2 separate regions of the Homo sapiens genome follow, and region 2 is linked to region 1. Evidence: fine-mapped expression QTL. A gene starts in region 1. The other region holds a variant in brackets. All regions are shown on one strand. Distances are from middle to middle.

Region 1 (2,904 bases):
ACTTGACAAAGCAGGATGCAAAAAGAGGGCCCTTCCTGCCCACCCCGCAGACAGGGCTCATCATATGAGAGGCAAGTATCAAGAACGAAGGCTCTGGAAACAAACTCCCTAGGTCTGAATCCTGCTGCCCTACTTAGGAGATGGAAAAACCTAGAGAAACTTGGTTACCTAGGAGGAGCAACATACTGTGTTGCTTTTTGGTTTGGAAAGGGGGGGAAGTAGATAGAGGTGCTGAAGAGGTCTGAAATGCTGATTTAGGCAGAAGGTGAGTCACCACTTTGAGTTTCAGTTTCCCCAGCTGTTAATTAAAAAAAAAAAAAAAGGCGGGGTGGTGGTGGGGAGGATAAAATCTACCTTATTAGAAGCCATAAGGGCTGCACATTCCTTCTGAAGCAACCTGTGATGTTCTTAAGCGTTATGTAAATGTTAGTTGTAGGTAATATCAATACAAAGAATAACGCTATTTTTTGTTAACATATTAAATATCCGGCCGGGGTGGCTCCCGCGTGTAGTCCCAGCACTTTGGGTGACCGAGATGGGAGGATGACTTGAGTCCAAGAGTTCGAGACCTGCCCGGGCAACATAGTGAAATCCCCTACCAAAAAAAAAAAAAAAAATGAGCCGGGCGTGGTGGCGCGCTCCTATAGTACTAGCTACTCGGGAGGCTGAGGTGGGAGGATCACTTGAGCCCGGGAAGTCGAGGCTGCAGTGAACTGAGACCGCGCCACACTGCACTCCACTGTGGGTGACAGAGTGAGACCCTGTCTCAAATAGAAAAAAATAGGTAAACATAAATCCTTTCTTTCTGACATTCTCCGAGCGTTTTATTACTATTAATAGTTTTTTTCCGATTCTCAAGAGGAACTGAGATCCCAAAAAGGCTCAGAACTGCAGTAGTGGAGGCCCGGGACTGGGGGATAAAGGCTTAGGTGGTGGACGAGGCTGCGGGCCCAGCAACAGGCCTTGCGTACCATCCTGGGGGCCGGGGAACTGACAACAACAGGCGACATGCGCAGCGCACCCGATCCGTGCCACACGCTGTGCCTGCGCTTCATACACATCCCCCACTTTCATCCTCGCGACAGCCCTCTGAGGTAGGTACTTTCGTCAGCGCCACTTTACAAATGGGGAAACTGAGGCTCCGGGGATCAAGCCGCTATCCAAGGTCACATGGCTCGCGAGCCGAAAAGGCACGTTCGCTGGCTCCCGAGACTGCGTTCCCAACCCAGGCGCATCGCGGCGGACGGCGGGGGCGGGGAGGAGCGGGAGCCCGGAGACCCGGACCGATCGAGGCCGCGGGCGCGCGGGGGCGGCGGCCGGACTCACCTTGGCGCTGTGCACCGCCTCCTGCGCCCCGCAGAGCTGCAGCCAGATGCGCGCGGGCAGCGGCTCCTCAGCCCCTAGCGCGCCGAGCACGGCTAGGCTCACGCCAAACAGGCCCTCGATACGGCCGCGGCTCTGCTCCAGCAGCTCCGCCTTCTCAGCTGGCGCAGTGAACTCGTCCAGCACCGCCCGGGCCGCCATGGCGGGCGCGGCCTCCCGCGGCGGCGCCGGGGGCCGGCGGCGGCGACGCCCCCTCAGCTTGCTGCCGCTGCTCCCAAGCCAGTCAGGCGGCGTCGGCCCTTCCCGGCCGCCTCGCCCCCGCCCGCGCCCCGCCGCCCGCCCTCAGGCCCGGCTATACCATCCCGCCACGACCGCAGCAGCTTGGCAATTGCTGGCAGCGAACCCCTCCGCCCCTTTGCCGCCGCCGCGGGCCGGGCCCCGCCGCCGCGCATGCGCCCCGGCCGCAGCCGTCATTGAGGCTCGCCGCCCCCTAGGGGAAGGGAGTAGGGTGAAGGCGACGGAAGTTGACGTCACCCTCAGTCGCCATGTTGGTTGAGAATAAAGGGATGGTTTTGGAGGCCTGGGCGGACTTCTTTGATGAGGGGAAACCGCTTTCGCGGGATCTGGTGGATGTAGATATATGGGTTTATAGTTGGGGAAACTTAATTGCCAGGAGGCGAGACTGAGAGTGTCACAGGGATTGGACTTGACCTCAGACATCTTGACGCTCAAACCAGGATTCTAGCAGTTGAGTTATTCAGTTTCACGTTAATCCACAGGCAGACGGGACTTTTCTTTCTCTGTTTCTTCCCTTCCTCCCTACCCTTTTACCTTCTTAGCTGCCCTTCTCACTTTTTTCTCTTTCCCTTTTTATTTCTTTCAGTAAAAATGGTAGCAAGAAGAGAAGAAAATGGGCATACTTACGGAGAATTGAAAATCAAAAAAATGATTAAGATAAATTCAAGAAGGCCGGGCGCGGTGGCTCACGCCTGTAATCCCAGCAGTCTGTGGGGGCAGAGGCGGGTGGATCACTCGAGGTCCGGAGTTCGAGACCAGCCTGACCAAAATGGAGAAACCCCCGTCTCTGCTAAAAAAAAAAAAAAAAAAAAAAAAAAAAAAAAAAAAAAAAAAAAAAATTAGCGCGGCGTGGTGGCACATGCCTGTAATCCCAGCTACTAGGGAGGCTGAGGCAGGAGAATCGCTTGAACCCTGGAGGCAGAGGTTGCGTGCGGTGAGCCGAGATTGCGCCATTGCACTCCAGCCTGGGCAAGAAGAGCGAAACTCCGTCTCAAAAAAAAAAAAAAAGATAAATTCAGGAGAGTGATTTCTTCTGTGAGGGAAGAAAGGGGATATGTTATGGGAGAAGCCCGAAAAGTGGGAGTTTGGGGGCTCACTCATGATCTTCCCTGGGACTGGAGCAAATAAACCCTAACCCCTCTCCAGGTCTGTTTTCTGATCTGTAAAATAAAAGAGTACACTCAGTTATCTCTAAGGCCTTTTCCAGGCCTTTATATTCTCTGAGTCCATGAAAACAGATTGTGGAAGATAAAGTGTTGGATTCCTTTCCTTCAGCTAAATATT
Region 2 (2,904 bases), 66 kb before region 1:
ACCCGCTACGGTGTTCAGAAGCTAAGACGTGACTTCCAGAGCCAGGCCAGGCATGTGGAGGCCCCTGACTGTGGGCGTGTCAAGCCCTGGCTGGGGAGCCTGCTGCCTGCCCGGCCACTCCTCAGCTGTGGCTGTGGCTGTGGGCATGGCCGGACGGCGTGCACACTGGGCCGTCCCCTTTTGCGCAGGGTGGAAGGGGGAAGGAGGGTGGGACTCCATGGGCTCCACGATGTCTTCTAGCCCTGGTATTCTGTGAGACTAACTTCGCCCTGGTCATTCACCATGGCTAGGCACCAAGTGCCATCTAGTGGCACCGCGGGTCCACTTTCACAACACTCCAACCAAAGACTGCAGAACAAACCAACTCTTACCCACTTTAACTCCGGGGGTGAGGGCAGAGGAGGCTGGAAGGGTGAGCACACTTCATGGTAGTGATGGGACATACTCATCTCAAGAAAATATACTTTAAGACGTCTTGCTTTCCTTAAGAAAGCAACACTTTTTTTTTTATTTATTTATAAAGGCTAACCATATCCATTTGTCAATATTTTCGGCTTTAAGGAAAATAGTTTAAAAAACATAAAAAGGTAAATACACTCAAGAGTAACTGCTATTAAACAGTTCTGAACAGGCAGAAAATGTAGACTTTCCTTTAACAGAAAATGTTAAATCTGTAATAGCAGCATAATTTATATATAGAAAAAAGCTGGTTTTGAAAACCCAGATTTATACCCAAAACATTTTTTTTCTGTACAACTGCGTTTACACTGGGAAATAAGTTTCTTCACATTATGTTCATTCCCATCAGGTACAGGTGTGAGCTTGAGTTTGATCAGCCAGCCCTGAGCGCAAGCTCAGCGCTCAGCACAATCTTCAATCCAACACCATGGCAGAAAGCGCATTTAGATCTTTCATGTATGGGTGGGCCACCAAGATCTGGTCTATTTTCAGTCTTTGCTCTGAGTCAGGGAAGATCTTCAGAAGGGCTTCCCTCAGCTCGTTGGTTTCTGCAGAAGATCTCTGAGCTGGCATGGGCAGGTTCTGCTGGAGACTGGGGAGGGCTGGCAGCAGTGGGAAGTGGGGCTGCTGAGGGAGCCAGTGGCTTGAAGGGGCTCCCTGAATC[C/T]GGGTCGGAGGCTGGTGGCTGGTGCTGGCTGCCTGGGTGCCAGGGACTCTGAAGCTGGGGTCAAACATGCCCACATTTGGCAGGGCACTGAGTAGGGGCTGCATATCTCTGTGAATGGAAGTGAGTCCTGGTGAGTTGGGTTATAAGTAAACAAAAAATCATAGAGCTATTTTAGAAGGTACCTGCGGCAGGCCTTGAGGCTCAGGATGCCGCTCCCTGGCTTCCAAAGGCAGGATGCAAGACTGAGGTGGAGATGGTGCCATGAGACACCCACAGAGGAGCCTGCGGGGATTTCACTGACATCACCTCAAGGCGTGCCAGGGAATCAATGCGCTCTATGAGGGAGCACCACCCTCCCAGGTCTTCTGCTGTGAGGACTGACCCCATCCAGCTGTTTGGCTCTAACCAGGGTACCCTTGGGAGCTTTCAAAAGGTTTAACAGTGTCTTACTCTTCTGAAGATTTTGATTTTGTGCAGGACCCTGATTAATAGAAATTAGAAGAGACTCCTTTTGGGGAGAGTGGCAGTCCCCACCGACTCAGTCTAGATGAGGTGTGGGTGGGTGCCCACACTTGTATGCACATGGGTATGTGCGAGTATGTGTGTACAGGGAGGGCATCTGTATCGCTCAAAAGCCTCCCACTGGACTCGGCCTGCAGGCGAGAAATGAGGCTAGCTGAAGTTTCCCCAACTTCAAAAGCTCAACTAACTTCAACAGCCCCTCTGTGATGGAAGTGATTCCCAACTTCTTAACCGATTTCTGAGCCGCTCCACAAAGAGCCACCAAGTGAGAGTGAAAAGGCAGGCAGGACAGACCCCGTGCCAGGTTGCTCAAGGAGCAGGAGCAAGCAGAGGACTCTCCTTCTGGTAACTCTGACCCGCGGACCTGATTGATGCTCTGACACAGGCCTCGGGCCTGAAGCCCAGCAGGGGATTTCCAAGTTCAGATGTGGGGAAGCAAAATGAGATGGACTGATGAGCACAGCAGGTGTGGAAAATGGCTGCCATTCTCTTCATGTGGGTAGAAAAGCATGGCATTTGGGAATTAAGTCCTCGTCTGTGTCATAAAACCCAAAGGCTCAAAAGAGAAATGATTCACAAGACCAGGGAGTTGAAATTGTAGTGGTCTCCTAGGTAGAAGAGACCACCATGTAAAAAAAGAAACCCATCACCACCTACCACTGAATCCAAACCTACAGCTCCCAGTGGTTCCTGTTGCAAATGGAAAAGATCAGCTGGAAAGTGTGACTGCCTAAAAATGCTGAGAGAGCTGTGTGTCTTCCTCTCAGCTTAGACCCCCCATCACACCCCCATGCAAATACCAGCTGGGAATGCACAGAAGTGCAGCCTGGTTTAGTTTTTAAAAAGAGTAAACATCAGTCATGGGGTCATATGATCTCCCTGTTAGGTTCACAGGAATCTTTAGTTAATGTCTGTTACCTAAGAATTATGAAAACAGAAACAACCACTAACAAGGTGTCCTAAAAACAAAACAAACCCCAACTACAACAAAGAAAACCTAAACTACCAAATCATTTTCAGATAAATATTGAATACTGGCTTTTCCATTCAGTGAAGGTAGAAAGTAATGGTCAGTTCCCCCAGGCAGTGATTCCTAAGCAGTAAGGAAATTAATATAAGCATAACATGTTCAAAGCAAATGACTTTAGAAAGTGAATGTAAAAAGACACTCACACATACAAAATGACCCCATCAGGCACTCGTGATTCAGAGGGAGAGCTCTCACACATACATGATGAACCTAAGTAGTATTCGCCAGT

Evidence for each region. PIP is the estimated chance that this variant, and not a neighbour inherited with it, causes the effect. A credible set is the group of variants that fine-mapping cannot tell apart.
Region 2: its variant is the best candidate, but not a certain one, in a credible set for the expression of N4BP1 in whole blood (TOPMed, PIP 0.69).

What each region holds. Positions count from the first base shown.
Region 1 is chr16:48,608,449-48,611,352 of GRCh38, forward strand. It overlaps N4BP1 (NEDD4 binding protein 1), which reads right to left and starts at 1,732. Exons shown (of 7, transcript NM_153029.4): 1 at 1,327-1,732. The coding sequence starts at 1,524. It overlaps LOC124903687 (a long non-coding RNA gene), which reads left to right and starts at 1,862. Exons shown (of 2, transcript XR_007065063.1): 1 at 1,862-2,070; 2 at 2,207-2,765. RefSeq lists enhancers at 863-912, 1,863-1,912, 1,923-2,002 and a silencer at 1,223-1,822.
Region 2 is chr16:48,542,031-48,544,934 of GRCh38, forward strand. It overlaps N4BP1 (NEDD4 binding protein 1), which reads right to left. Exons shown (of 7, transcript NM_153029.4): 7 at 1-1,231. The coding sequence ends at 874. Among named protein-coding and RNA genes, the nearest start is that of N4BP1, 67 kb to the right of the region's middle. RefSeq lists enhancers at 1-91, 92-592. The variant C/T (reference allele first, on the strand shown) is at 1,124.